7 linked regions of the Homo sapiens genome follow. The protein of the gene in region 1 purifies or fractionates together with the protein of each later gene. This does not show direct contact. Each region holds a gene or a part of one and is shown in the gene's direction. Other genes may lie near its edges. The genes, in order: ASB9, GM2A, A2ML1, AKR1B1, GGCT, IL36G and ACO2.

Evidence for each region.
Region 2: the proteins of ASB9 (region 1) and GM2A purify together in Homo sapiens (co-immunoprecipitation; one large-scale study listed by IntAct). This does not show direct contact.
Region 3: the proteins of ASB9 (region 1) and A2ML1 purify together in Homo sapiens (co-immunoprecipitation; one large-scale study listed by IntAct). This does not show direct contact.
Region 4: the proteins of ASB9 (region 1) and AKR1B1 purify together in Homo sapiens (affinity purification with mass spectrometry, with the first as the bait; one large-scale study listed by BioGRID). This does not show direct contact.
Region 5: the proteins of ASB9 (region 1) and GGCT purify together in Homo sapiens (co-immunoprecipitation; one large-scale study listed by IntAct). This does not show direct contact.
Region 6: the proteins of ASB9 (region 1) and IL36G purify together in Homo sapiens (co-immunoprecipitation; one large-scale study listed by IntAct). This does not show direct contact.
Region 7: the proteins of ASB9 (region 1) and ACO2 purify together in Homo sapiens (affinity purification with mass spectrometry, with the first as the bait; one large-scale study listed by BioGRID). This does not show direct contact.

What each region holds. Positions count from the first base shown.
Region 1 is NC_000023.11:15,267,268-15,271,554, reverse strand, and holds the start of ASB9 (ankyrin repeat and SOCS box protein 9), read left to right. Parts: upstream 1-1,471; 5' UTR 1,472-1,680; coding exon 1,681-1,774; intron 1,775-4,287. UniProt on the Homo sapiens protein: Substrate-recognition component of a cullin-5-RING E3 ubiquitin-protein ligase complex (ECS complex, also named CRL5 complex), which mediates the ubiquitination and subsequent proteasomal degradation of target proteins.
Region 2 is NC_000005.10:151,263,177-151,266,736, forward strand, and holds part of GM2A (ganglioside GM2 activator isoform 1 precursor), read left to right. Parts: intron 1-3,554; coding exon 3,555-3,560.
Region 3 is NC_000012.12:8,853,603-8,857,162, forward strand, and holds part of A2ML1 (alpha-2-macroglobulin-like protein 1 isoform 1 precursor), read left to right. Parts: intron 1-525; coding exon 526-647; intron 648-1,177; coding exon 1,178-1,229; intron 1,230-1,906; coding exon 1,907-1,990; intron 1,991-3,560. UniProt on the Homo sapiens protein: Is able to inhibit all four classes of proteinases by a unique 'trapping' mechanism. This protein has a peptide stretch, called the 'bait region' which contains specific cleavage sites for different proteinases.
Region 4 is NC_000007.14:134,456,245-134,460,576, reverse strand, and holds the start of AKR1B1 (aldo-keto reductase family 1 member B1), read left to right. Parts: upstream 1-1,476; 5' UTR 1,477-1,514; coding exon 1,515-1,580; intron 1,581-4,332. UniProt on the Homo sapiens protein: Catalyzes the NADPH-dependent reduction of a wide variety of carbonyl-containing compounds to their corresponding alcohols.
Region 5 is NC_000007.14:30,502,010-30,506,133, reverse strand, and holds the start of GGCT (gamma-glutamylcyclotransferase), read left to right. Parts: upstream 1-1,304; 5' UTR 1,305-1,424; coding exon 1,425-1,565; intron 1,566-4,124. UniProt on the Homo sapiens protein: Catalyzes the formation of 5-oxoproline from gamma-glutamyl dipeptides and may play a significant role in glutathione homeostasis. Induces release of cytochrome c from mitochondria with resultant induction of apoptosis.
Region 6 is NC_000002.12:112,976,613-112,980,822, forward strand, and holds the start of IL36G (interleukin-36 gamma), read left to right. Parts: upstream 1-1,393; 5' UTR 1,394-1,466; intron 1,467-2,007; 5' UTR 2,008-2,026; coding exon 2,027-2,081; intron 2,082-2,608; coding exon 2,609-2,713; intron 2,714-3,396; coding exon 3,397-3,536; intron 3,537-4,210. UniProt on the Homo sapiens protein: Cytokine that binds to and signals through the IL1RL2/IL-36R receptor which in turn activates NF-kappa-B and MAPK signaling pathways in target cells.
Region 7 is NC_000022.11:41,507,058-41,510,617, forward strand, and holds part of ACO2 (aconitate hydratase, mitochondrial precursor), read left to right. Parts: intron 1-733; coding exon 734-992; intron 993-3,560. UniProt on the Homo sapiens protein: Catalyzes the isomerization of citrate to isocitrate via cis-aconitate.

The sequences.
Region 1 (4,287 bases):
TACTCAGGAGGCTGAGGCAGGAGAATTGCTTGAGCTCAGGAGGTGAAAGTTGCAGTGAGCCGATATGACACCATGGCACTCGAGTCCAGGTGACAAAGTGAGACCCTGTCTCAAAAAAAAAAGAATAATATAGGTACATTTATGTGGAAAATGTAAATTGATAAATGTGCATACATGTGTATGCATATAAATGCCTTTAAAAACGTGAATTACACCCCTCAAACTGTTAATAACAGCCACCAAATGTTTTAACTGAGACTCCGTAAATCTAAAACATCTAGGCCTCATCTTTGGCATTAAGACAAATCTGCAATCACTTCACAGCCAGTCTATGCTTGAGACTTAACTCAGAGCCTTCCCCCATGGGGATGAAAAATCCTCTTCTACCTGGAAGAGAGGAATGGTGGGAGTCTAGAGGTGCCTGTCAGCCTGAAGTAGCACCCAGGGGTGTGAGGCAACTGGGTTTATCTGAAAAGACATGGACACAGTACATCCAAATTTTTTTTTTTTTGAGGTGGAGTCTCGCACTGTCGCCTGGGCTAGAGTGCAGTGGCATGATCTCGGCTCACTGCAACCTCTGCCTCCTGGGTTCAAGCGATTCTCCTGCCTCAGCATCCCGAGTAGCTGGGATTACAGGCGCCTGCCACCAGGCCCAGCTAATTTTTTTGTATTTTTAGTAGAGACGGGGTTTCACTATGTTAGTCAGGCTGGTCTCAAACTCCTGACCTCGTGATCCGCCCGCCTTGGCCTCCCAAAGTGCCGGGATTACAGGCATGAGCCACCGCGCCCGGCCCCTAATGTTTTGTATAAGCAAAAACAGCAAAACGTTAACAAAATAAATTTTAGTAATTCACAATGAAAAGATAGCAGGTCTCTTCCACATCTCAGGCCACCTAGCAATCCATTTTTCCAATTGCAACCGTTCATTATTTATTTAGAAGTTAAAATGAGTGGAGGAGGGGTGAGGTAGGACATTTAGTGAAATTCTTGCAGCTGAAAGGAACAAATGGTTCTTTCCAAAGGTACATTTTTTGTAACATATAGACACATTTCCCATAAGAAACTCCCAGCACAATTGAAAGCACATGTACAGATGGCCAGGGCGTGCTGTGCATGTTACTGTGCAAGCAATTCAGCAGGGCTGCTGCAAAACCAGCTTTCTCAGCTCTGGGTGCTCGGGCTTGTCTCCATAACAAGCTACCATGTAACAAACGGATCTCAGCAGGGTGAACAACAGTTGCAGAAAGTGAGCTGTTTCCTTCACCCCCACCCTGCTCCCTTCACTCTCAAAAGTTACAAACTGAGTTTCCTTCCTGATAAACTCCAAGGCTTCCTCACTGATTGGTCTCAGTTTGGGAAAGGACGTGACATCAGCAACTTCGCAGACTTAGGGCTGGAGGGTTCTTGTGGCCTCTGGCGGGCCTCCAGCCAGTTAGGTAAAACGTGTGTGTGTGTGTGTGTGTGTGTGTGTGTACACGAGCGCATGCCTCTCTCTGATCACAGGTAGCACTCAGATTACCCTGCCTGCTCTGTGCTTTGCTGCAGACCATTTGACCAGAACGTGTGCAGCTCAGCCAGCCACAGAACTGGAATTTTTCAGGAGCAGGGGGAGCATGGAGTTTGGACTTTGCTGAGCAACTGAAGTGGAGCGCAGAGCTTGCTCGCTTAGGAGAGAGCATCATGGATGGCAAACAAGGGGGCATGGATGGGAGCAAGCCCGCGGGGCCAAGGGACTTTCCTGGCATCAGGCTTCTTTCAAACCCATTGATGGGCGGTGAGTCATAGGGGCAGTGGAATCAGCCCTGGGGAGGTTGGCTAATGTGCTTAGGAGAGGAGGGTTGGGCAGTTTCAGTGGCTCTGTGTGAGGTGTCCATGGGGCTGTTACTGGGCAGATGTCCACAGCTCACTGGTATATATTCTTTACACAGCTGTTCAAAAATGTGTATACTTCTTTCTGCAGAATCCTACAGACAAGACAAATTCAATTGTCACAAATTATTCTCCAGTGAAAATTTCAGCTCCCAGGAATCATTCTTTGTGGGTCAAATGCATTATTTATTAAATTGGAGGTTTGAAAGTTACTTATAAATAGGAAAATTTTTAATGCTAAAACTTTTTAATTTGTAAGTCTTAGGTGTTTGGCATTTAGGTGGGGCAGGGTTTATAAAGATGTTCAAACATTGAGCACTGATTGAGTCACTTTCAAAAGAGACAAAAGAGACTTTGTTTTACTTAAAACATTGGAGAATCATCTTACAGGTATTGTTCTCATCTGTCAAGTGGTGTCTGTGCTAATGTACAGAATCCCACAAATACACACTTCGGTGAGCATTCAGCAGGTGCCTGTTGGCTGAAAGGATTCTGAAAAATGGGTTTAGGCATTTGCACACAGGTTCTTATAAATAATAGTATATTGGTTAGTAATATACTGGTTAACTCTCCAGCCCCAAGTCTGCAAACTTGCTGATGTCACGTCCTTTCCCAAACTGAGACCAATCAGTGAGGAAACCTTGGAGTTTATCGGGAAGGAAACTCAAAGTTCGTAACTTTCGGAGAGCAAAGGGAGCAGCAGGGTGAGGGTGAAGGCAACAGCTCACTTTCTGCAACTGTTGTTCACCCTGTTGAGATCCTTGGGGGCTTGTGACGGAGACAAGCCCCAGCACCCAGAGCTGGGAAAGCTGGTGTTGCAGCAGCCCTGCTGAATTGCTGTATTTATTATTTATTAATTTTTTTTTCTTTTTGAGACGGAGTCTTGCTCTGTGGCCCAGGCTGGAGTGCAGTGGCGCGATCTCGACTCACTGCAACCTCCGCCTCCCGGGTTCAGGCCTGTATATATAGGCGGGGCACGGTGGTTTACGCCTGTAATCCCAGTACTTTCGGAGGCCGAGGCGGGCAGATCACGATGTCAGGATACCATCCTGGCCAACATGATGAAATTCCGTCGCTACCTAAAATACAAAAATTAGCTGGGTGTGATGGCACGTGCCTGTAATCCCAGCTACTCGGGAGGCTGAGGCAGGAGAATCACTTGAACCCGGGAGGCGGAGGTTGCAGTGCACCTAGATCTCGCCACAGCACTCCAGCCTGGCGACAGAGTGAGACTCCGTATCAAAGAAAAAAGAAAAAAATATATACCTGGTATACTGTCCACAGCACCTGTTGATCAAAGGGGCAATAAACAGGGACCCTGAAGTCAGGGTGTTTTGTTTTGTTTTGTTTTTTTGAGACGGAGTCTCATTCTGTCGCCTGGGCTGGAGTGCAATGGCGAGATCTCCGCTCACTGCAACCTCTGCCTCCCGGGTTCAAGAGATTCTCCTGCCTCAGCCTCCCGAGTAGCTGGGATTATAAGCGCCCGCCACCACACCCGGCTAATTTTTGTATTTTTAGTAGAGACGGGGTTTCACCACGTTGGCCAGGCTGGTCTAGAACTCCTGACCTCAGGTGATCTGCCCGCCTGGGCCTCCCAAAGTGCTGGGATTACAGGTGTGAGCCACCACGCCCGGCCGTCAGTCAGGGTTTATTAATCTACTATACAGGTACCAAAAAGGTAAAAATGGAAGAAATAAAACACAAAACGTCTTCCCTTTGACTGAGTAGACTAGCCTGCTCATTCATTCATTCATTTATCCAATTTCACTTATAAAATGAGCAGAGTACTCAATGGTGAGTGGGATTTAGATCCACAAAGGCAGAACTGGATTAATCAGCAGATGTATTGAGCATGAGTTTGGAGAACTAGGAAAGCAAGAGTGGCATCAAAAATCACTTTTCACAAAGAATTTCTTTTTTTTTTTTTTTTTTTGTTTTTTTTGAAGTGGAGTTTCACTCTGTCACCCAGGCTGGAATGCAGTGGAGCAATCTCAGCTCACTGCAAACTCCACCTTCCCGTGTTCAAGCGACTTTCCTGCCTCAGCCTCCTGAGTAGCTGGGATTACAGGCGTCCGCCACCACACCCAGCTGATTTTTGTATTTTTAGTAGAGACGGGGTTTCACCATGTTAGCCAGGATGGTCTCAATCTCCTGACCTCGTGATCCGCCCGCCTTGGCCTCCCAAAGTGCTGGGATTACAGGCGTGAGCCACCACGCCCGGCCACTTTTTACAAGGAATTATATATATAATTATATATATATATATATTTTTTTTTTAGATGGAGTCTCGCTCTGTTACCAGGCTGGAGTGCAGTGGCACCATCTCGGCTCACTGCAACCTCGGCCTCCTGGGTTCAAGCAATTCTGCCTCAGGAGGGAGAGGCAGGGACTAGGTGGGACTACAGGCACACGCCTGGC
Region 2 (3,560 bases), on another chromosome or scaffold:
CTGCCTCCCGGTTTCAAGGGATTCTCCTGCGTCAGCCTCCAGAGTAGCTGGGATTATAGGCGTGCACTTTTTTAGTAGAGATGGGGTTTTGTCACATTGGCCAGGCTGGTCTCAAACTCCTGACCTCAGGTGATCTGCCCACCTTGGCCTCCCAAAGTGCTGGGATTACAGGCGTGAGCCACCAGGCCCGGCTCCCAATATTTCTCGTATATATATATATATTTATTTATTTATTTGGTTCAGTTCTTTTTTCAGGATATGTGCATATCAACTATTAGATGAAAGCTCTTCTGACCACTTGCTAGGGAGAAGAGCCGATGAGGGACAAAGGGTCTCAGGAAAGGTTGCAACTTGACCCAGGTCACAAAGCTAGTTGTTAGCATGGACAAGGCTGGTATGTTTATCTTGGGGTTTGGTTCCTGAGCTTTTACTGGCAGGGAGGTAGACTTGGTGCTTGGTGTATTTGCAGGGGAGGGGAGAGGAGTGCTGCAGATTCAGTTCCAGAACTCTCCCCTTGCCCAGCAGACCTGCTTATGAGAGCTGCCCAGAACTAAGCTCTGGATGAGCCTGGAGCACTCTTGGGGTCCATGGGGCTTCAACCCCTTGTTACACTGAGGCCCAGAGGAGAGTGACTGCCCAAACCCAAGAAAGCAACTGCCATCCTCTCTTTCTCTGATCTTGCTGTAGTGAAATTTCTTTAATCAAAAGTCAAATCTGGGACCTGGCTGGATTTGACTCCAGCTGCAATTTTTAAAAGTTAAATGTCCCGGATTCCATGGCCGTGGGTAAGACTGGGGCCTGCTCAGGAGCTCCCTTTTCTCTTTTGACTTGCTCCATGGGATCTGGCATAGTTAATAACTCCCAATGCCCAGCCCTCCCTCAAGTTCCAGCCTGTGGGACCCTGGTTTTCCCATCCTCAAGAACTGTAAATTGTCACTGTATTTGTCATATGTACTTATTCCAGCCTTTCAGGCCTGGTAACTTGGCTCCCCCAGCACCCAAAGTCATATACATGCCTGGGCTCATTACTCCACCCTGCTTCCTTTTCTGAGTCATAGTAGCAAATAGATTGAGAATAAGAAATGAGCCATCATTTGTAATTTCCAAATGGTAGGTGTGGCTGCTGCCTTAGAACCCTCTGTTGACTTCAGTTCAGTACACTTCTTGTGTCGTGCTGGTCCTGTGCTGGGGGCAGGAGTAGAGATGAGGGAGCCACTACCTCTTCTGGTAGATGCAGCCCTACAGGTTCCAGCCTGGTGGGAGGAGCCCTGGCAGGACTTGTCCCCCTACTGGCCTCCTCCACTGTGTGTTCTCACTCAGGGCATAACTGGCTCAAACATTTTCATTAGGGTATTGGCGACACAAGGAGAGAGTATTGGCTAAGGAAAAAGGCAGGGCAGAAGTCATGGAGGAGGAAGCTTTTGATTTCAGGCACTGTGCAAAGTGCTGGTATTTCCCTCTCAATGGGACCTGTGAGAGAGGTAGGCACTCTAAAATATCCCACTTTTGAAGATGAGGCGAGGCTGGATACAGTGCTTCATGCCTGTAATCCCAGGACCTTGGGAGGCCGAGGCGGGTGGATCATTTGAAGTCAGGAGTTTGAGACCAGCCTGACCAACATGGTGAAACCCCATCTCTACTAAAAATACAAAAACATTAGCCAGGCGTGGTAGCTCATGCCTGTAATCTCAGCTACTCAGGAGGCTAAGACAGGAGAATCGCTTGAACGCAGGAAGCAGAGTTTGTAGTGAGCCAAAATCACACCACTATACTCCAGCCTAGGTGACAGAGTGAGACTCTGTCTCAAAAAAAAAAAAAGAAGGTGAGGGAATGGCCACTGAGAGAGATTAAGTAACTCACCCAAGGGCACAATAAAACTAGGAAGTGGCAGAACTAGCATTCCAACCTAGGCCCTCTGACTTTTCCTAGGCAGCGGGGTAGAAGCAGGTTTGATGAGAGAGAGGAGGGCTGAGAGGGTGCTGTGTGGCCAGTGGTGGAGATAATGGGTATGTCTTAGGAGCAGATGAGGCCAGTGAGAGGAGCAATTAGAATTTGTCCACTCAGACCACAGGATGTGCTAACTTCTTTGTTCTTTCTGGGCCTGGAGGAAGGCAGCTAATATCTCGACATCTGGGGCATCTGGAAGACTTGAGTCCGTGGCCTGGGAACCAGCCTGAGCCCAGCAGCCTCTTAGGACATAAGTGCCCATCCAGGATTTAATCTCTTAGAAACAGAGCCCCAAATAAAGTGAGCCTAGAGGCTGGGATTCCTAGAATGCTAGAATGTCAGAGCTGAAAGGGATCCTAAAAATGTGATTTCCTGCCATAACACGCACAAGGAATCAGATATTTGAGAAAGCTAATTTCCTGGTGCTCTTTCCTGAGAGTTTTCCCTTGATACCTTTGGTGGGTGATGGACATGGTTCTAAAGCCAACTCATTTGGCACTAGAGGCAACTAACACATGGTGACTGTTCAGCGCGTGCCCGGCACAACTGGGATGTCCACCATGAAATTTGGGCCACTTCCTCCTGGTCAGCTTCAGCCTCCAAAACGGGAGCAAAGTCATGACAGTATGGAGGTGTGAAGTGTGTTCTAGAGCTTCTCACCCAGCCCTACTCCAGGCACAAGAGTCTTTTGTAGCTTTCCCGGCTGAGTCAGGGAGCCCGTACTCCTTGAGGCAGCTCCATCTGTTGTAACCTAGCTATGATTTTATACCAGTCTCAAGGTGATCTTTCTATACATTCCTATTGTTCTTAATTCTGTCTTCTGTGGCTGTACGGAGAAAATGTGACCCAAGAGCAGCCAGTTGGGTTCATTTTGGTAACCAGCTCATCAGTTGGTAGTAACTACCTGAAGTCCTATGCAGAAAAGGATTTTGGGGCCACGACTGGGCTCAGAAGGAAAGCCCAGGAAACAATGCCACAGTTAACCAATTAGCAGTTAGATGACAAGTGCATTTCAATGCAAGTGTTAGAGCCAATCAATGGGTAGTGACTACCTAAAGAATTCTAAGACTATGGACTGAGCATGATGGCTCACGCCTGTAATCCCAGCACTTTGGGAGGTGGAGGTGGAAGGATTGCTTGAGGCCAGGAGTTCCAGACCAGCCTGGGCAACAAAGTGAGACCCCATCTCTACAAAAAATACAAAATTAGCTGGGTGTGGTGGCATGTGCCTGTCTGTGTTTCCCACCTACATGGGAGGCTGAGGCAGGAGGATCGTCTGAGCCCAGGAGTTTGAGGCTGCAGTGAGTGCAGTGAGCCATGATACAAAAAAAAAAAAAAAGAATTCTAAGTCTATGTATAGTTCAGTGTAGGGGGAAAATTCACATTTGATTATTAATGTCTGCCATGGGCACAATAATACACTATACTCACACATGGGCCACAATGTTGCCATTCCTAGAACAGACTATCTCTAAGATCTCATCCAGTTAAAAATTCTATGATTAAAATATATTGCTGCTTTTTTGAAGACAGAAGAGCTGGTATGTTTGCCCTGGAATTTACACTTATAACCTTTTTCAAACCTTTGTTTTATTTTTTTTTACCAGGTGGAT
Region 3 (3,560 bases), on another chromosome or scaffold:
CTCTGATCCTTACAGGCTGCTAGACTGAAGGACACAGTTCTTGACCTCAGCTTTTGGCTAGGGGCCTCACTCAGTATCTCATCACATGAATCTCTCTGCTGGGCTGCCTCATCACACAACAGCTGTCTTCCCCAGAGCAAGCAGTTTGAGAAAAGGGGTGCACCCAAGATGGAAGCTGCAGTCTTTTTTGTAACCTAATCCCAGAAGAGTCATTACTTTCACCCTGTTCTCTTTAACAGAAGCGAGTCACTCAATCCAGCTCACACTCAATGGATGTAAATATCAGGATGCAGGGATCTCTGAGGGCCCTTAGAGGTTACCTACCACACTGGACTAGCCTCTCTGGCATCACCTGGGAGCTTGTTAGAAATGCAGAATATGGGCCCCACCCCAGGTCTATGGCAGCAGAGTTTGCACTGTTGCAAGATCCCCATTAAAGTTTCAGAAATGCTGATCCAAATGGGAATGGACCTCACTGGTACCTCTGGCAATAGGGCTAATGGCTTCCCTTCTTCTTTCTCTCAGGTCACATTAACTTTACTATTAGTACAAAGATTCTGGACAGCAATGAACCATGTGGGGGCCAGAAGGGGTTTGTTCCCCAAAAGGGCCGAAGTGACACGCTCATCAAGCCAGTTCTCGTCAAAGTGAGTTTTCTTCAGAGGTAGAGACAGCAACCAACCGAGGGATGCTCAGCATCTCGTCTTGCTGTGAGTTAGTCTCTCACAGCAACCATACTCCAGTCCAACCAGGCAGCTTCAACTTTCTCCTTCCCTGGCCCCTTGAACATTTGCCTAATCCACACCCACGGCCTATGAAAGCACCTAAAACCCGGCACCTCATAGGCACTCAACAAATGTTAGTTTACCTAATTAAAATGTCTGTCTTCATCAATAGCTGCCTTTTTCGTCCCATCATGAAGCCCATTGTCAATCTTGCCTCTTAGAAGTTGCCTAAATGTGTCTTTGGCTCTAGCACTTGCCCAGAAAGAACTTTACAGAAAGGGCCCATCCTTGGGTTGACGCAGAGTTCTTCTGAGCTTCAGTGAGAAGCTCTTGTCTGCAGTTCTGAGGGAAGCCCTGGGGGCACAGCGAGGGGCCTCCCTTCCCTTTCCTTTAGTGCCATCCCTCCTGATGTTCATCTTTGTTGTTTTTATCTGTGTCTCTCTTCATCGCAGCCTGAGGGAGTCCTGGTGGAGAAGACACACAGCTCATTGCTGTGCCCAAAAGGTGGGTGGACTCAGAGCAGGATTGGTGGTGAGAATTCCCTTAGAGGGCAGGAGATTTTCTTTTCATTTTTTTTTTTTTTTTGAGACGGAGTCTCGCTCCGTCGTCCAGGCTGGATTGCAGTGGCACGATTTCAGCTCATTGCAACCTCTGCCTCCCGGGTTCAAGTGATTCTACTGCCTTAGTCTCCTGAGTAGCTGGGACTACAGGTACATGCCACCATGCCTGGCTAATTTTTGTATTTTTAGTAGAGATGGGGTTTCACCATATTGGCCAGGCTGGTCTCGAACTCCTGACCTTGTGATCCTCCTGCCTTGGCCTCCCAAAGTGCTGGGATTACAGGCGTGAGCCACTGCACCCGGCAGCAGGAGATTTTCATAGGCAAAAGGAGGAATGCATAGTACCAGAAGGAATAGGAGAGTCTGAAGTGCCATTCCTCATGGGGCTGATTAACTGGGAGGCAGGAGGAAGAAGAGAAAGTGTGCAGCACGATGATGACTCTCTGTGGAATTTATTTTCAGCAAGATCACTATGAATAGTACCCAGTGCTTTCTGCATCCCAGAGAAAGCACCGAGTACAGAAATCCCTGGATTATAGAAAGTTCTTCTAAAATTTTGTCTTGAGAACCCCTGCCATTCCCCATCTTCTATTGTGTCACCTTTTTTTCTGCATCTCACAGGAAAGGTGGCATCTGAATCTGTCTCCCTGGAGCTCCCAGTGGACATTGTTCCTGACTCGACCAAGGCTTATGTTACGGTTCTGGGTAAGCAGTTAGAGATTCTTGACTCAGAAAGGAAAAGGCGAATGGAGGCTGCAAAGGTGTGGAGTGGGGCGGGACATACGGACCTATCCGGAGAGTGTAACTAATAACAAGTGATGAAGGAAAAAGAGCGTATTTTATATAGGAGGGAAATACAGTGTAGGCAACAGTACAGATGGGATTAGACTTGTACTCTAGTTAAAAATGGAAGAGAGTCAGGGTAGGAAGAAGGTAAGGTCGCTGATGCTTGATTTTAGGTTTAGACAGTCTATAAATTGGGTGAAGGGAAAACAGAATATTTGCAGCAACCATTTTCAAAACTGAGGAATTTGGGTATAGTTTAGGGAAGATACAACCATATTTACAATAGGCAGCACACTTACTGTTTGGGGCAAGGGAGGAAGTGGGTTGAAAAGCATGAACGTAGAAATCATATCTAACCTGTCATTTAATAGCCATGTGACCCTGAACAAGTTAGTGAACAGTTCTGGGCCTTCTTTCCTCTTCTGTAAAACAGTGATAATAACCTACCTCTCAGACTGGTGTAAAGATTAAATGCAATATAAAGTCCCCAGCACAATATCTAGCATGTAGTAGGAGCCCTATGAATGTTAGGCTCTTTCTTTACTCCCTCACCCTCTATTGAGATCCTTTGCAGTCACAGTGTCTCTGTTTTGTCTATTTTATTCGTAAGTCTGACATAGCACTTATCTTATTGTATTAGAGTTCACTGTCTATATCTGTCTTCCACACTGTGTTGGGGGCTCCTGAAGAGGAAGGGCCACATCTTTTTCTTTTGTGTTCCTAGTACAGTTCCTGCAACATAGTTGACATTCAGGACACATTTATAGATTGAATTGAGCTTGTTGGCTACAATGCAGATGTTAATGAGTCACTTATGTCAGGTTCACTGGCTTGGGAAGTATATGAAGGGGTCAGTGACAACTTGGAAAAGAGTGTCAGAACTGTGTTTTAGAGAAACTTGGTGATTTGGAGGGTGAGGAACGTACATGCAGTGGTAGAGGAGCTTAAGAGATTGATCCTAAGTGTTATAAGTTTTGTCACATCACTCATCAGCTCAGTGACATGTCTTCTTAAAAGCCCTGAACTCTCTTAGATAGCTTATGTGCCTCTCCGTGTCCCCTAGCACCTCGTACATATCCAGTATGACATTGTAGTACTGTATTAAAATTGTTTATAATGAATAAAAATTGTAATGTGTTGTAATGGTTTGCTCCTCTGTGAGTTTTTTTGAGGGTAGAGACCGAGTTTGATTTACTGTGGTCTTCCCAGGACACACAGTAGGTACTTTTTTTTTTTTTTTTTTTGTATTTTTAGTAGAGACAGGGTTTGTCCATGTTGGTCAGGCTGGTCTCGAACTCCTGACCTCAGGTGATCCACCCTCCTCGGCCTCCCATACTGCTGGAATTACAGGCGTGAGCCACCACGCCCGGCCCATAGTAGGTACTTATTAAATGATAGCTAATACGTGTTTGTTCAGTGAATGATGATAACTCTTAGAGGGTCCCTTCTTCTCTGTACCCCTACCTTCTCTCTCTCCTTTTGGATCCCA
Region 4 (4,332 bases), on another chromosome or scaffold:
AGACGACCCTTCTGTGTGTACCAACCTGGCCACTCAAGGTGTATCATTTTCACAAGAGATTAGCTCTTTGGATTTGGACCCAGGAGGTTCAATTGGCAGAGCAACCTCCAAGTCAAGAGGACTCTCATGGAGGAAGGAACTTGCTGTTTTACACAAAGCAAGTTCCCAGCTTTAGGCTCAAGTTCAAATTCTATTACTTGGGGACAAATGAATTTGCCCAATAGCAACAATTTTTACAAAAGTTACATGGAAAAATATCTGGGCTAGTCTGTTCTGTATAAATTTTTCCAGGAGGGAGCACTTTTAAAGAAAGCACCAAATGGAAAATCACCGGCATGGAGTTTAGAGAGACCTGGTGCTTGAGTCACTACCAGGCAGATGGAGTTCCCAATCTTGCATAATTAGGGGAAAGATCGGAGGGTGATGGAGCAGAAAGAGCAGTTGGGGTGAGGTAGAGTATCATGAAGAGAGGTTGTTGGAAAGAAACCAAAATTGTCTTCAAGGATCTTCAAGTGACTTTTCTTAGGCTATCTTGGAAAAATGTGTGTTTCTACCTGCCAATTAGGGTGATCAATTTACTATTTTGTACCTTCTAATTTGAAATACTGGAAGCTACAATATTAGAGTCAACTTTTTCTTCTGTGGTTTTCTGTCTGTTCACTTTTCTTCCTCTAGAGAGTTTTGATAAGTTACTGTACTGGAACTTACTGCTTTGATAGAGTCTCACTTTCCAAAGACTGATGAAATTTGTCTTACTGATTCTGAATGGACAGCCTTACTTTCCAAATTCTTCTGAGAGTTCTGGATCAAGCCCATCAAGGCTTTCTAACCTCAAGAACATCAAAGGATGCTGGCTTTTGGTGGAAGGCTTGCTGAACCACACCTAGTATGCACAGACACAGCTAACACCTAGAGTGGGGTGCAAAGAGAGATCTAGAAGGCTACAAAAAGTCTGGGCAAACCCATATTTTGTGAAGGTGCTTTGCAAAAGGATTGCAAGCCATTTTTCTGGCATGCACCTTTGTCTAAGAACAAAGTGCGGTAAACTATATGTGTAGTCAGTATGATTCACATAGATTAAGGACAAGGTATTCGTCAGATTCCCAAAGAGCATCAAACTGGGGTTGGACAACAAAGGCATTCTTCTGGGCTCTTAATGAAACCAAAACTTATTTCTAGTCTATGTATTTATGGGATGCCTGTTATTTTCGCTAAAGCATTCGCTTTCCCACCAGATACAGCAGCTGAGGAACTCCTTTCTGCCACGCGGGGCGCGGGCGAGCGTTGGGGGCGGAAAGAATCCGCTGCCACTAGGACCAGGCGGAAGAAGCATCCCCGCCGACCCTTGGGGAAGGCCGCCGCGGCACCCCCAGCGCAACCAATCAGAAGGCTCCTTCGCGCAGCGGCGCGCCAACCGCAGGCGCCCTTTCTGCCGACCTCACGGGCTATTTAAAGGTACGCGCCGCGGCCAAGGCCGCACCGTACTGGGCGGGGGTCTGGGGAGCGCAGCAGCCATGGCAAGCCGTCTCCTGCTCAACAACGGCGCCAAGATGCCCATCCTGGGGTTGGGTACCTGGAAGGTAGGTGCTCGTGGGGGCGCGGGCCCGGGGCTCGCCTCACACTCTCCGCGCGGCCTGTATTGGCGAGGGACCCCGAGTGACCCTGAGCAGCTCGCCCCGCGGACGCCCGGCGTGCTGGGAGCCACGCGCGGGCTTGCAGGGTCCCCAGCGGGCTGGGGTCGGCCTTGCAGAGACCGGGGGCCTTGGCTCCCCGGGTTGGCCCTGGGCGTCAGGGCAGCATCCTGCGAGTGGGGTTTGGGAGCAGCTCACGGGAGCCCCCGCCCTACCGCGGGCAACCCTTGATGGGCGGCCCACCAGTCCGCATTTTGGGTCCTAGCGGGCGCCCCAAGCGGCACAACGCGAGAGGGAGGCGGGGAAAGTGGGCTTCACAGACCGGTGGACCTCGGGCGCAGACAGGGACGTGGAGCCGTCGGCAAGGTGTGGGAGCGCAGACCCAGCCTCCTTTCCCTCGAGGCACCTGTAGCCCGGTTGCCTCACTTGTAAATAGTTGGTCTCAATCGTTTCGATTCTTGCCCTCCCTGAGGAATAAGCATCTCAAGCCGGTAGAGGGCAGAGAATTAGGTGGCGCGAGTTTGCCCGGACCCAGCTGTTAACAAGGCGCAGTGCGGAGCTCCTCGGCCAGGCGCCGCCTCGGGGTGCCCTGGGTCTGGAACTCGGGAGAAAAATCTGGGCACCCCGTAGCTAGTTGATAATTCAGGAGGCGCCAAGGTTAGCATTTTCCCTGTAAAACCTCAACACCACACAGCGTCCCCGAGAAGTGCCTAGCCGGATGAGAATGACAATAGGACATGAAACATCATAGGATATGAAAAATGATAATATGATATGAAAAACCAAAAATAATAGCCTGAGCCTGATTATCTGAAAATTGAGCAACAAAGGTGGTGGTATGGGAGCTGAGGCAAAACCTAGAATTTTTAACCTTCTAAGTATTGCATATTATATTCCACAGCCATAACCTGGGTTTCTCAGTTTCTGTTTTTGTTGTTTGCTTGTTTGTTTGTGACAGGGTCTCGTTGCCCAAGCTGGGGTGCAGTGGCACAATCATGGTTCATTGCAGCCTGGAACTCCTGGGCTCAAGTGATCCTCCTGCCTCAGCACTGCGGGTAGCTGGGACTACAGGCGCTCACCACCACACCTGGCTAATCTTTTTTCTTCCCCGCAGAGACAGTCTCCGCTTGTTGCTTAGGGTGATCTCCAATTCCTGGGCTCAAAGCGCTCCTCCCACCTCGCCTCCCAAAGCTACAGGTGTGAACCATCTGGCAGGCCCACGTCCCAGGTTTTTCTCTTAAAATTTGAATATGGGCCTGGGCGTTGGATATTTACACACAGACAAGGGAAGAAAACAACAGAAAGAACTGAGTGAACTGTGAGATGTTTGAAATAGGACAGAAGAGTTTACATGTACCCTAAAACCTGCTGTTGAAAATTAGTAAATATAAGGTAAGAAAAAGGTCATTTGCATCAGGGAGAGTGTTTCTTGGCCAGAATGATCAGGGTACGTGATTTGTTTCCTCCAAAAACTCCAGTGGTGTCTCTAAGGTTGTAATTGAATTACAACCATGACACCAAGCTAATTTCCATCTGTTGCATGTTATGCTCTTGGAATGGATGCAGAAGGATGCTTTCTTGGCAATAGCAAATACTTTCTAAGCATGATGCAACGCACAGATATATACATGTAACTGGAATAAAAATTACTTAACAGTACTTAACCTATGTAGGCTGCATTTCAATATTTTTTTCTATTCCATTTTTCCAAAAATTATTGTCATACCTCCAGAAGCTAGTTTTGTGACCCATCATTTGAAAATCACTACTCTAGGGTAAATAAGGAGTAAAAGTTTATTTTTTTTTTTTTGAGACAGGGGCTCAGTGTCACCCAGGCTGGAGTGCAGTGGCATGATCATGATTCACTGTAGCCTTAACCTCTTGGGCTCAAGTGGTCCTCATACCTCAGCCTCCCAAGTAGCTGGGACCACAGGTGTGTGCCACCACACTCGGGTAGTTTGTTTTTAATTTTTTGTAGAGACAGGTTTCCCTATGTTGTCCAGGCTGAGGAGTAAAAGTTTATGAAAGAGGGTTTCAGATTATTCACTTGAGCACTCAATGCCCCAAAAAGCTATGTATTTGTTTAAGATAACATCACATCATAACATCTGTACATTTAGGTTATGCATTCCAGTAGACAGAGTTCATTGAGAAATTGGATAATGTCTGCTTCATTCATTACTATTTCTAGCACTTCTCACAGTGCCTGGCAAATATAGGAGTAGGTATCCAAAAGTTATGTGTTGAATTCATATGAAGAAGTAAAACGACTTTAGAGATAGCTGTATGGTGAAAACGCCCACTTGTATTCCTGTGGATGAGGAGATCAGGTTGGTGTAGAATTGTACGGTGGGGGCAGCGGGGAATGGTGGGTCAAAGTAATGGTATAAGGATGGACTTGGAATCAACTTCCTTTTTTTTTTTAATGACTTAAAACCTTTCCCTGGGGCCGGGCGCGGTGGCTCACACCTGTAACCCCAGCACTTTGGGAGGCAGAGGCGGGCAGATCATGAGGTCAGAAGATAGAGACCGTCCTGGCTAACATGGTGAAACCCCGTCTCTACTAAAAATACAAAAAATTAGCCCGGCATCGTGGCACGCACCTGTAGTCCCAGCTACTTGGGAGGCTGAGGCAGGAAAATCGCTTGAACCCCAGATGTGGAGGTTGCAGTGAGCCGAGGTCCCGCCACTGCACTCCAGC
Region 5 (4,124 bases), on another chromosome or scaffold:
CAGCTGTATTTCAGTTACCCCGAAATACAGCTGCTACTAGAAAGGCGGAATACCTGTTTGTTTTCTTAAATTATCACTTTGCAGAGTAAAGTTGGTGTAATAGTCACCACCAATAGTGTGGCAAATGAAGTTATAGTTTTTTTTTTAATTTGGATTACTCTTTGGGGGGAATGGCTTTTTTATGTTTAAAGTTTCCAATCATTTTTCAGTTTGCAGTCATTGTTATTTTTGATTCTCAAATTGTTCTAATTTTGGCCAGTGGGCAACTTCAGGCTGGTTCCCATGTCCTTTTAGAAGGACCTCGTTCGTCTTGAGAGGCGTCCTGAGCTTCTGACACAAGATGTTCCAAGTTGTCCTCATTCACTCCTAGCTCCTGACCTGGCATCAGTCATTTCTCGAAGGATCACTTGGTACCTTTTAGTGGGGGGTGGTATTTAGAGATTAATAGCTGGGTGTCAAGGATAGACAATGTTCCTATGCCCTTATGTTCATTCAAAAGTTAACAATATAGGTTTTAAAAAATACACCCAGGATGTGTGTGTGTGTGGGAGGGGGTAACCAAAACACAATATAGGGGTTTCTACTGTGACCCTAACTTATATTATGATCCCGATTTTTAAAAAGAGGAAACGGAGACCAGAGGTGCCCAAAGTTACTTGGCTAGTAAATGGCAGCGTCGGGATTTAAGCCCAGGCATGTAACTTCCATGTAACAGGGAAGGGAGTCCCAAGCATTCAGAGGGGCCGCTCCAGCAGGCGACGGGTCCGTGGAAAGGGGTCAGATTGATGACCAGTGCTGGGGGTGCCGGAACCAGCAGAAAGGGTGAACGGACCCGTCCTGCCCGACTCCTCTAGGCCAGGAAGGCAGGACCCGGCGAGCTGCCGGATGAGGGAGCCGTTGATGGAGTCGCCTGGGCCGCTGTTTCGCCTCAGATCTGACCAGAACTTCCTAAGGCACAGAAAGTACCAAAGAACCACACACAAGCACCCCAGAGCGAAGAAACCAGTCACGCGCCACGACCTTCAGCCAGTGTCCATGGGACCCGACCCGCCTGTGAGGAGTGCCTGTCCACCCCTCAATCAGAGGAAGCCTTGAGCAAGGAGGGGCGGGACATCAGTAGGTCGTGTCCAATGAGGAGCCAGCGCCGGATTGCTTCAGGACAGACTATTTCTGAGTCTCGGCGGAAGGCGGAGGGAAGGCCGTGGGGATGGCCAATCAAAGGGGGCGACTCAGGTCGGTGGGGACCGGCAGCCAATCAGGAGAGCGCTCGCTCCTGACTCGACCGGCCCACGCTTCCCGCCAGTCCCCTAACCCTGAGGCTGCCGCGCGGCGGTCACTGCGCCGGGGTAGTGGGCCCCAGTGTTGCGCTCTCTGGCCGTTCCTTACACTCTGCTTCAGGCTCCAGTGCAGGGGCGTAGTGGGATATGGCCAACTCGGGCTGCAAGGACGTCACGGGTCCAGATGAGGAGAGTTTTCTGTACTTTGCCTACGGCAGCAACCTGCTGACAGAGAGGATCCACCTCCGAAACCCCTCGGCGGCGTTCTTCTGTGTGGCCCGCCTGCAGGTGAGTGCCCCCTCCCGCGCTACCCACGCCGGGGCCGGGATGCCCAGAAGGCGCTTCCTCGGGGGCACACGTGGCCGATCGGGCCAGGAATGCAGTTCTTCTTGATGAGGGTACTAGGACGCGGCTTCCGCCTCCTGGGCGGGTCCACCTCCTCCGCTGCGCCCACTGCCCGGCCCTGCCCGGGCCACGGTGCCCTCTCGGGCTGCCTGGAGCTTTCCCCCTCCTGGCCTTTGCACCGGCTGCTCGGTCTGCACCGATTTGGCCTCTCGTCCACTAACTTAACAGATTGCATACAGTTGGTACTTCTGGAGAGTCTTCTCTGACCCGTGTCTGGGAATTGGTTGCCTTCTGTTCTGTACATAACCTTTGTTACAGCACTTCTCACCTGGCATTGTGAAAATCCGTTTACCTGCCTTTCGCTCCTCATCTAAGAGGTCCTGAAAGCTGGGACCATGTCTTATTTGTAATAATGCTGTGTTCAGTTAGGTCAAGGGGCTGCATGAACTATAACCAGTGTTGGTAAATCATTGCTCTTCAGCCCAGTCCATTCATTCATTTAGTACATATTCTTCCGGCACTTAACACTAAGGGTATAAACATGATTGAGTAAAGTGGCTGTTTCGAGGAACTCTCAGTCTGTAGGACAGAGGTGCAATAGATTATGTTCAAAACCTTTTTGACAGCGTCGAATGAGACAAACATGATCTCTGCTAACATCGTGAGTTCTTAGTTGCAAGCAACAGAAACTGGCTGATTTAAGCAAAAAAAAAAAAAAAAAAAAAAAAAAGAATGTGTTGAAAGGCTATTGGAGAGCTCACAGAATGACCAGGAAGGCAGGAGTACAAAGCTGACAAAACGGACAAGCATAAAGGGAGGCACAGCAACTGTAATACAGTGGGCATCACACAACAGAACCAGCCCACGGAGCCTCTTCCACGCCACTGCTGAACTTGGTAAACGTGGATGCTGTATTGTCCACCACCCCCTGCCCTGGACACTGCCTGCCTCTGTACATCCCTGCAGTTCCTGAAACCCAAATGTGTCAGCCTCTCTGGAGTCCCTGCTGTCTTGGGCACTAGCTTCTAATTGAAAGCCCCAGAATGTCCCGATTGGCTAAGTTTTGGCCACGTACCCATGCCGTGATTTTAAGCAAAACTGAGAGAACCAGCTTCTGGCCTTTGAAGCCTCAAAAATGGGAGTCAGGCTCTGATACTCCCTATTCCCAAACTCGTAAGGTAGGGAATTTCCCAACTGTAGGAAGGGAGTCCAAATGCTTACAGTCAGGGCAAGGGGAAGAGATATTAAACAAGGGATTATTCAGTTACAGGTATATGGTCCATCTTAAAAAGGAGGCATGCAAAGTGCAATGGGGCGTATGACCAGGGTACCTGACCTAACCAGGATGCTCAGGAAAGCCCTGCCTGAAAATGTGACTTTTAAGTTGAGACCTGAATGATTGTAGAGGTGGGGAGCACACAAAACAGGGAACAGCATCTTCTGCAAAGGACCTGAAGAAAGAGGAAGCTGGATCTTTCAGTCAGTGTGGCTGGAGTTTAGTAAGGGGAATGTGGCATGAAGACTGGAGATATGTGGAAGGGCCACATCTTCCAGGACCACAGAAGCCAAATAAGACACACTGCAGAACTAAAGCACATGAAAGATAGATTTCTATCTCCAAAAGCCCATTCTGGTCACATGGAAAATAGATTTGAAGGAGGGAAGAGTGAATGTGGAGAGTTCAAGAAGTTTTTGCAGCAATTTATGCCAAAGATAATGAATGGCATCTTGAACTAGGGTGGTGGCAGGGCAGGGTGGATGGATTTGAGAACTAATTTGGAGATAACATTGTTAAAGCATAGTGATTGAGTGTGAAGAGAATACCAAAGATGACTCAGGTTTTTGGCACCAGGTAGATGCAGGTGATGTTTGCAGAGAAAAGAGGAAAATCCGGCTTGGGAGGAGAAAATTTTAAGTTCAGTTTGAACATTTTGAATTTGAAATGCTTGCTAAACAGTCAAGTGAACAGAATAATATTAGCAAACATTTATTAAGTACTTACTGTGTGCTAGGCCCTGTTCTAAGCACTTCTGAAGCTCAGAAGAGAGATCTGGTCTGGGTTTAAAGATGATCAGAATATTTGAAGCCATTGGAGGGGATGAGAATGTCTTGAGCAAATTGCCAAATGAATAGAGAAAATGGCCTAGACCATGGGTGTCCAACCTTTTGGCTTCCTTGGGCCACACTGGAAGAAGAAAAATTGTCTTGGGCCACACATAAAATACACTAAAACTAATGATAGCTGATGAGCTAAAACAAAAACAAAAACAAAAAAAAGGCCCATGCATAATTTTTGTGATGTCCGCCACCACAGGTAAGCAAAAAAGTTCTTGCATCCAAAGGGTTGGACACCCATGGCCTAGACTGAGCCTTGAGCAACTCCAACATTTAAAAATCAGGTAATGGAGGAGGAGTTGGCAAAGGGGATTGAGATCAAGGAACAGCCTGAAAATCAGGAAAGAGGCAGATCAGGAGAAGGTGGTTACCTATGTTCCGCTGAGA
Region 6 (4,210 bases), on another chromosome or scaffold:
TAATCTTCTTTGGCTTTCCAACACACGTGTATCTAGTTCCTTTTATTCAATTCCCTTTGTTTGCAATTCCTAGCATGGATTCTGCTTTCAGAGGGATCCCAGTTGGAAATTCAGGCTTAAGGGATTTGGGGGGTCAAATGATGGGAATTTTAGATGCTGTTTTGTGGTGAACATCCCAAGAAAGGAGTTATGTTGACTGATGTGTAATGGAGGGGATTTTTAACAGGGCAATGGAGACTCAAGTGAGGTGGCACTGGCTCAGGTTGACTTTGAACAAAAGTGCACCTGGCATTACCACACTCTTTCCTAGGGTCACAGAAACACTGGAAGCCAAAAGTGATAGAATTGGGGCCATGGCAGGAAAGGACTGTGTTCTTCCAAGGCCAGAAAGGAGATTAGGGTGAAAAGTAAGAGACGTTGAGTCAGGAGACTCTTTGCAGGGCTGGGAAGAGGGGCTCATGGATGAGCTTATCTGGAAGGTTCTGTCTCATTCTTTGTGCTTTTCTTCCTTATAGATGGGTAAACCTGAAGCTGTTAGTGCTTCAAGTCTGTCTCCTAAAACTCACTTCACTCTAGTAGTTAACTTATACCTCAGTAAATTTTTAGGCTTGGCTACAGCAGATAGGATGGGGTGTATAAACAAGATATAAAAATAACTATTACCACTGATCAGGAACCTAGGGCAGAGGGTGGGGGATAAGCTGGCATCTGGGGCTCAGATTTGGGAGAAATCGCTGCCCACCTCTTTACTTCCTTAGGCAGTTCTGGAGTCCACTGCATTTTGAGGGTACCTGAAACTAGGATTGCCTCAGTTAAAAGACCAGTCTGCATAGTCCCTGTGGCTCCCCATGTGGATGGAGCTGAAAGAGTGTTAGGTAGGGGAGCTCTACTGCCTGGCTTTCCATTCAGGTGTGGCCTTAGGTGGGGTAGTTGAGAAATGCCACAGGGACCTTGCCTGAGACGTGTGGCTAATTTTGCTCTTACAGGATGCCTTTAGCCTGACTGCAGAGGGCAAGGCTCCCAGTCCCAGGAGATGGAGTCCCTGACATGAGAGTGCCTGGCATTTCCAGTTCTAGCTCTAGAATGACATGACAGGAGAGCTGAACTCTGGGAAATTCCCTTAGTTTCCCCTTTATGAGAAACCTAGGATCTGTCATCAACCTCATTTCCTTGTGGTTGATTTTGTGCGGATTGGCTCAACACTTATTTCTCAGCGAGCCCGGACAGGTGATACTTGTGCTAATTCTGTGATTTCTTCCTCCGAGCCTCACAGGATCTTCTGGTAGGAGGAGCTGGTTTTCTTTCATGTCATACGTTTCTCATGCCCCACCCAGGAAGCTGGAGCCTCCTTCTCTGCTCATCCAGATAAATGATCCAGGCTCCATTAGAACCCATCACTGACCTTGGAAGCTGCTGGAGCCACGATTCAGTCCCCTGGACTGTAGATAAAGACCCTTTCTTGCCAGGTATAGTCAATAGCTGGAAAACCTCTTCTCCCTCCCTCTGGAGCCTTTCCTCTCATCTGTGCTTTGGGCTTAATGAAGGGAAGGGCCACATCAGGCTGGCTCTGTGCTTTGTCCTATGTGTGGCTGCTTCTTACTGGGGAGTTGCTGGGATCCTGGCAGAGTGGCCCTGGCATGGGACCCTCCCCTGCTCCTAGGCAAAAACAATGCCGATGAAGGGGTGGAGGCTTCAGAGAAGAGGAGTCAGGGCATCAGGTGCCTGTGGGTTATTTAAGGTCAAATTTTATGCCTGGCCTTCGAACTCCTAGGGGAGACACTACCATACTATCTGGATCTCCAGGTGGAGGAAAATTCTACCTGTTCTCCCTTTGCTGATGCTTCCTTCAAGTTTCGTCCCAGATGTGGCTCAGAACTTCTGCCCAGAGCTTCGTGTCAGGCCAGGTTTCCCAGCTCCCTGTCTAGAATGAGGGCCTGTGGAGCTAGTGTCCTGGAAGGTCTTGGAAACATCTCTTGTGGTTCATCTGTTCTATGTCTGCTTTCACAGGTGCTGAGACAACCACACTATGAGAGGCACTCCAGGAGACGCTGATGGTGGAGGAAGGGCCGTCTATCAATCAAGTGAATCAAATGCTGTTGGGATGGGGCTCTGGAGGCTTAGGCCCTCTGCACTCACGCTATCTCCTGTGGAAGCCCCAGCCTTCTCTGCTCCTCTCTGTACACTGCCCTTCCCACCTGGTGCTGCCCACCTACCACTGGGCCCTGGGCTTCTGGAGGGTGGGAGCTATTGCTTAGTCACTGATCCAGCTCCAGTCCCCAGCACCGGGGCCAAGCACAGAGTAGGCACAAAAGAGGGTAGCTGGGCCTTGGCACACAGGTTCTGTGAGACTGCTCATTGCCCTCTGTCTTGATAGTTTGCCCTCTTAAACCAGTGACTTCCCTTGGTAGCCCTTGCCTTCCTCACCAGAGCTCACAACTTCACTAGAAAGAAAGGCTAGGCTGATGGGTGATGTGAGTGCTGTCAGTTTGGGGATGCAAACCCCACACCTTCCTTACAAAATGGCCTGGGTTAGATACTTTTCTCCTGGGTCTAGTAAAGCAGCCTTGATTATAATATTTCTTCATTTTTTTCTCTATCCCAAAATCAGTGTGTAAACCTATTACTGGGACTATTAATGATTTGAATCAGCAAGTGTGGACCCTTCAGGGTCAGAACCTTGTGGCAGTTCCACGAAGTGACAGTGTGACCCCAGGTGAGTGGTCACCCTGTGCCTTCCCCACTGTTTGCACTGCTGTGGCTGGGAAGCTGGCATCAGCCTTTTGTAAAAGTGTGACTTTACAATGGGGCCCACCAGGAGTGGGGAGAATTTCACACCTAATTGGGAAGAGAAGTCAGGGAGAACTTTGGGTTCCACTAAGATGAAGAAGCCAGAGATGGTGGAGGAGCCTCCAAGGGAATAGGAAAGCTGCTGTCAGTCATCTGAAGCCCTGTCTTATGGAAGACTAGTAGCTTGTTCTGCATGACTTCAGGGTGTCCTAAAATGACTAAATGGGTGAATACCACAGAAAGGCAGGTTTCAGCATCACATTGGGAAAAACTTGCAAAAGGGACCAAGCTCTCCAAGAATCAGAGGGGCTGCTTGATGTAGGAGCTCCCCATCTCCATGTGCTCAAGCAGAGGCGTGAGAATCTCAAGAGCATACTCTGTTGTCTGCTTAGCTCTCTGTGTTTGCTCATTTACTAGGGCAGTGATTGGCACATGGTATGAATGAATGAATGAATGAATGAATATGGGGGTTGGCCATTTGGTGGGTCTAGTTGGGATTACACTCTTCAGCTCTCTTCCAGATCCACTTGAGGATACTGCCCTGCTAAATCAAATAATCTTTCTGACTTCAAAAGGAAACTGATACCATCTCTCCTCTTATCTTTACAGTCACTGTTGCTGTTATCACATGCAAGTATCCAGAGGCTCTTGAGCAAGGCAGAGGGGATCCCATTTATTTGGGAATCCAGAATCCAGAAATGTGTTTGTATTGTGAGAAGGTTGGAGAACAGCCCACATTGCAGCTAAAAGTGAGTAGCTAAGAAAAATATTTAAAAAGCCTTTCCTTTTAGAAGTGTTTGGTTGAATACCTAATTTTAGAATTAAAAAAGAAATAGTCTCATCTTCCTAAGCATATTTATTCCCAGCCTCTTTTAAGTTATGTGCATGCAATACACTTTTCTTTTTATTCTGGCTGTCAGTAGTTAAGGTCCTTGTTTTGCTTTTTTTTTTTCCAAGCCAAACTGCATCCAGCTTTATTAAAGATACTTTCCATAAACATTCATGGTATTTCAGGCAGGATATGGGCAGACAATTGTTAAGAGTATGCAGCAAACTTCAAACTCCCTTGTTCAAAGGACTACCAAAAATCAGAAAGCCACTATAAAACTCAATGAAGTCTTCATCTGATGCTCTGAACAGGGAGAGTTTAGAGTGAGAGTTGACATTTCACATTTAGCATGTGGTTTAAACTTTTCACAAGCCAACCCTGACTTTCAGGAAGTGAAATGAAAATGGTAGAATTTATCTGAAGATCCACGATCTAGAAACAGAACCACTGCTCTTTTGACAGGTGCCATCTCAGTGGCATCACTGGAAAGTCCAGAGTGCCTGACATACTGGTAACCAATGATTGAGGGCCAGGTCCCAACAGATGTCTGGCTTAAAGGAGTTAAATCTATGCTGAAAGATGGAAAGGGAGAAG
Region 7 (3,560 bases), on another chromosome or scaffold:
ATTTTGGCTCTGATGAGGAAGGGAGGGGTGGGGCCTCCGGGGAAATGGGGTCTAGGAGGAGGAGGAGCTGTGAGAGGCCAGTGGCAGTGACCCGGTCTCTGTTCTTGAAAACTGACAGATACTCCTGTCTATGTCTGGAGCTAATGGGCAAAGTCTTAGTGTCATAGTTGGGTAGCCAGGCATCCCAGGCCTGAGGTGTGGAGGGTTGTAGATGGCGGACAGGGTGGACAGGTGAAGGGGATGCTGGTCCTGATTCCCTGTGCCTTAGTGGGGCTGAGGGCACAGAGGGAAGTAGCGAAATCTAGCTGTGAACTTGGTCACTCTCCTGAGCCTGTTTCTTGGTTGTTGTTAAATGGCTTTCTTGGTTGTTGTTGTTGTTAAATGGCAGGAATGATGAGATATGCATGTTGCGGGGACTTAGTAGGAATTACGATGCTGGGAAAGCCAGGATCCTTTGAAAAGAACCAGCGCTGCCCTCTTGTGATGTTGTCATTCACTTACTCATCAAGTAATTGTGGAGCACCTAACAAGTGCCAGGTGCTGCAGGAGGTGAGGAGGTGGTGCAGTGAACAGGACCCAGCAGTCCCCACCCAAGTGGAACGTTGAGGTCCTGAGTTCAGACTCCCTGTCCCTGGCCACTGTTGAGGTTGCCACATGGACTGAGAGGGAGAGGCAGGGCGGGAGGAGGCCGTGCAGCTAGCACCAGGCCACCCTTCTGCTCTTCTCCCCACAGACTGAACCGGCCGCTGACACTCTCGGAGAAGATTGTGTATGGACACCTGGATGACCCCGCCAGCCAGGAAATTGAGCGAGGCAAGTCGTACCTGCGGCTGCGGCCGGACCGTGTGGCCATGCAGGATGCGACGGCCCAGATGGCCATGCTCCAGTTCATCAGCAGCGGGCTGTCCAAGGTGGCTGTGCCATCCACCATCCACTGTGACCATCTGATTGAAGCCCAGGTTGGGGGCGAGAAAGACCTGCGCCGGGCCAAGGTGAGCAGAAGGTGGCTTTGGGGGTGGGCAAGTGGGCAAGACTGGGCGAGAGGCCTCACCCTCACACTGGAGCAAACCAGGGCATTGCCTCCAAATTCTCACACCTCTTTGGATTGGTCTGCTTTTAAAACTTGATTTTACTTGTTTCTCTTTCTAAAAATAGCACTTGCTCATTATGTTAAAAAATACAGAGGAAGCCTAAAGAAAGAAAAAATCATCCTTGACCTTACCACACTGCAGGTCCTTTTTCTGTCCTGTTGGAGGATGATGTGGATCCTGCCAGGTGCTCTGGAAGGGGCCATGCAGGCCTCCCTGTCTGCCTGAGCAGTGAGGGGTGCATCTTAGCATAGTTTGCCAGCATCCCATTTGCACCCACTCCCGCTCTCCTCTGACCCTCCAAGGACCCTCTCCGGGAGGTAGGCGTGCTAGGGTCACTATTTGTAAATTTGAGGCGGCAGTGGCATCATACTTGAGTTCTGTAACTACATGAGGGCACGATTAGGGCTCAATGCTGATCCTGGCTCCCACTCTGGTGCTCTGTCACTGAGGAGCCTCCTTTGGGGGCCATTCTTCTGTGAGTTTTGCTTAACTACATGGGGGTGGCTGTATGCCATGCTGAAGGCTTTTCCCCCACCCTTCTATGAAATCGAGTTCCTGCTCCTTCTCCCAGGCTCGGCTTGTGGGACCTTTGTGTCAGCCTGCTCTTGGCAACAGCGGGCCTCTCTCTCCCAGCTCTGGGCCTCCCCACTCTCCAGCCCCTGCAGTGGGAGTGGGTCCCCCTCACGGGGAGGGGCGTTGGCAGGAGCTGAATGCTGGCAGGGCTGCGGCCTGTGGGCATGTGATTGAAAGTGCTCCAGCTCCCAGGGTCAGCATGGCTCAAAGCCTCCCAGCCCCATGGGAAACACTCGGGGCGGCGCTCTCACTCAGACCCTCTCTTCCACCCTGGCCCCCTGGTGGTATCCTGGCTCCACAGTGGCTCTTTCCCCTCAGCTGAAAGGACAGTCCTGCCTGCCGGCCGGCGGTTTCCACATTAGCAACAACACTGGTGGGGGTAATAATGTTACAGGAGCTCCCACAGTGCCGGGAACTGCACATGGCCGGGAACGTGGGTCCTCTGCAGCCCTGGGGACAGCTGCCCACAACAGGGCTGCTACCTTCTGGGGCTGGCTTTCTGCTTGCTTTATGGGCTCAGAGTGAATCTTCTGGAGATGAGATGCACACTCATAGCATTCAGAGCTCATTCCCTCATGCGTTCAACAAATTGAACATTCTTTATGTGCCAGGCACTGGGCTAGGTACTGAGGTTCAGTGTGAACAAGTCAGGCAGGGGCCCTGCCTTCAGGGATCTGCTTGTGGGTGTGGACACTAAACAATGGCCGAGGTAGGTAACTGCAGATCTGGGTATGTGTTAGGAAGGGAAAGTGCGGGACTTGGTCAGTATAAAAAAGAGGTCTAATTTAGATGCTGGGGGAAAGAGAGAGCTTCTTTGAGGATGTGACAGATAACCTGAGGACTGAACATATGAGTTGCATTGACTGGAGGAAGAACATGCTAGAAAGAACAGCATTTGCAAAGACCCTGAGCCAGGAAGAAACTTGATGCTTTTGTGGAAGTGAGAGGGGGCCTGTACTGCTGGAGTTCTCTGTGTTTGGAAGAGCGGGTGGTATGAGGTGGGCAGGGGCAGCCAGGAACGCGAGGGCTGTGGGAACGCTATGGTCACCATCCTCAGAGTCCTAGAACAGTTTAAGCGGAGAAAGAATATGGTCTTTTTTTTTTTTTTTTTTTTGAGACAGAGTCTTGCTCTATCCCCCAGGCTGGAGTGCAGTGACACACAATCTCGGCTCACTGCAATCTCGGCTCACTGCAACCTCCGCCTCCTGGGTTCAAGCGATTCTCATGCCTCAGCCTCCCGAGTAGCTGGGATTACAGGCACCCACCACCATACCTGGCTAATTTTTGTATTTTTACTAGAGACAGGGTTTCACCACGTTGGCCAGGCTGGTTTCAAACTCCTGACCTCAGGTGATCCACCCACCTCGGCCTCCCAAAGTGCTGGGATTATAGGTGTGAGCCACCACGCCCGGCCTAGAATGTGGTCATTATTACGTGTATTTGTAAAGTGTCCCTCTGGCTAGGGCTCAGAGGCAGTGACCTGTCTAGGGTCACAGAACCAGAGATGGATCCAGGCTGAGTCCAGGCCGAGACTCTGGCACCAGTCTGGGGTCCTCCCACACCCCTTCCTCACACTTAACACAGACGTGTAGTCACATGCGCCCAGACACGACCACAGCCTCCTGTCCTGGATACCAATTTCATAAGTGACCGATTTGTAAATGAAAAAGCTGATGTATTAATTATTAATTGGAAAGAGACTGCTCTGGAAACCCACGTTCTTTGCCATTCTCTTACCTGGGGGAACCCAGTGGGCCTTCAGAGGGCACACACTGGTCTGGAGTTTCAGTGAAGGGGTGTGTGGTTTGAGTGTATCTCATCAAGGGTCCGAGGGCACTGGCTGAGGTCCCTTCTCTGAAGCATCGCTCTCCCATGCCGGAGGCTGGCAGGTCCCAT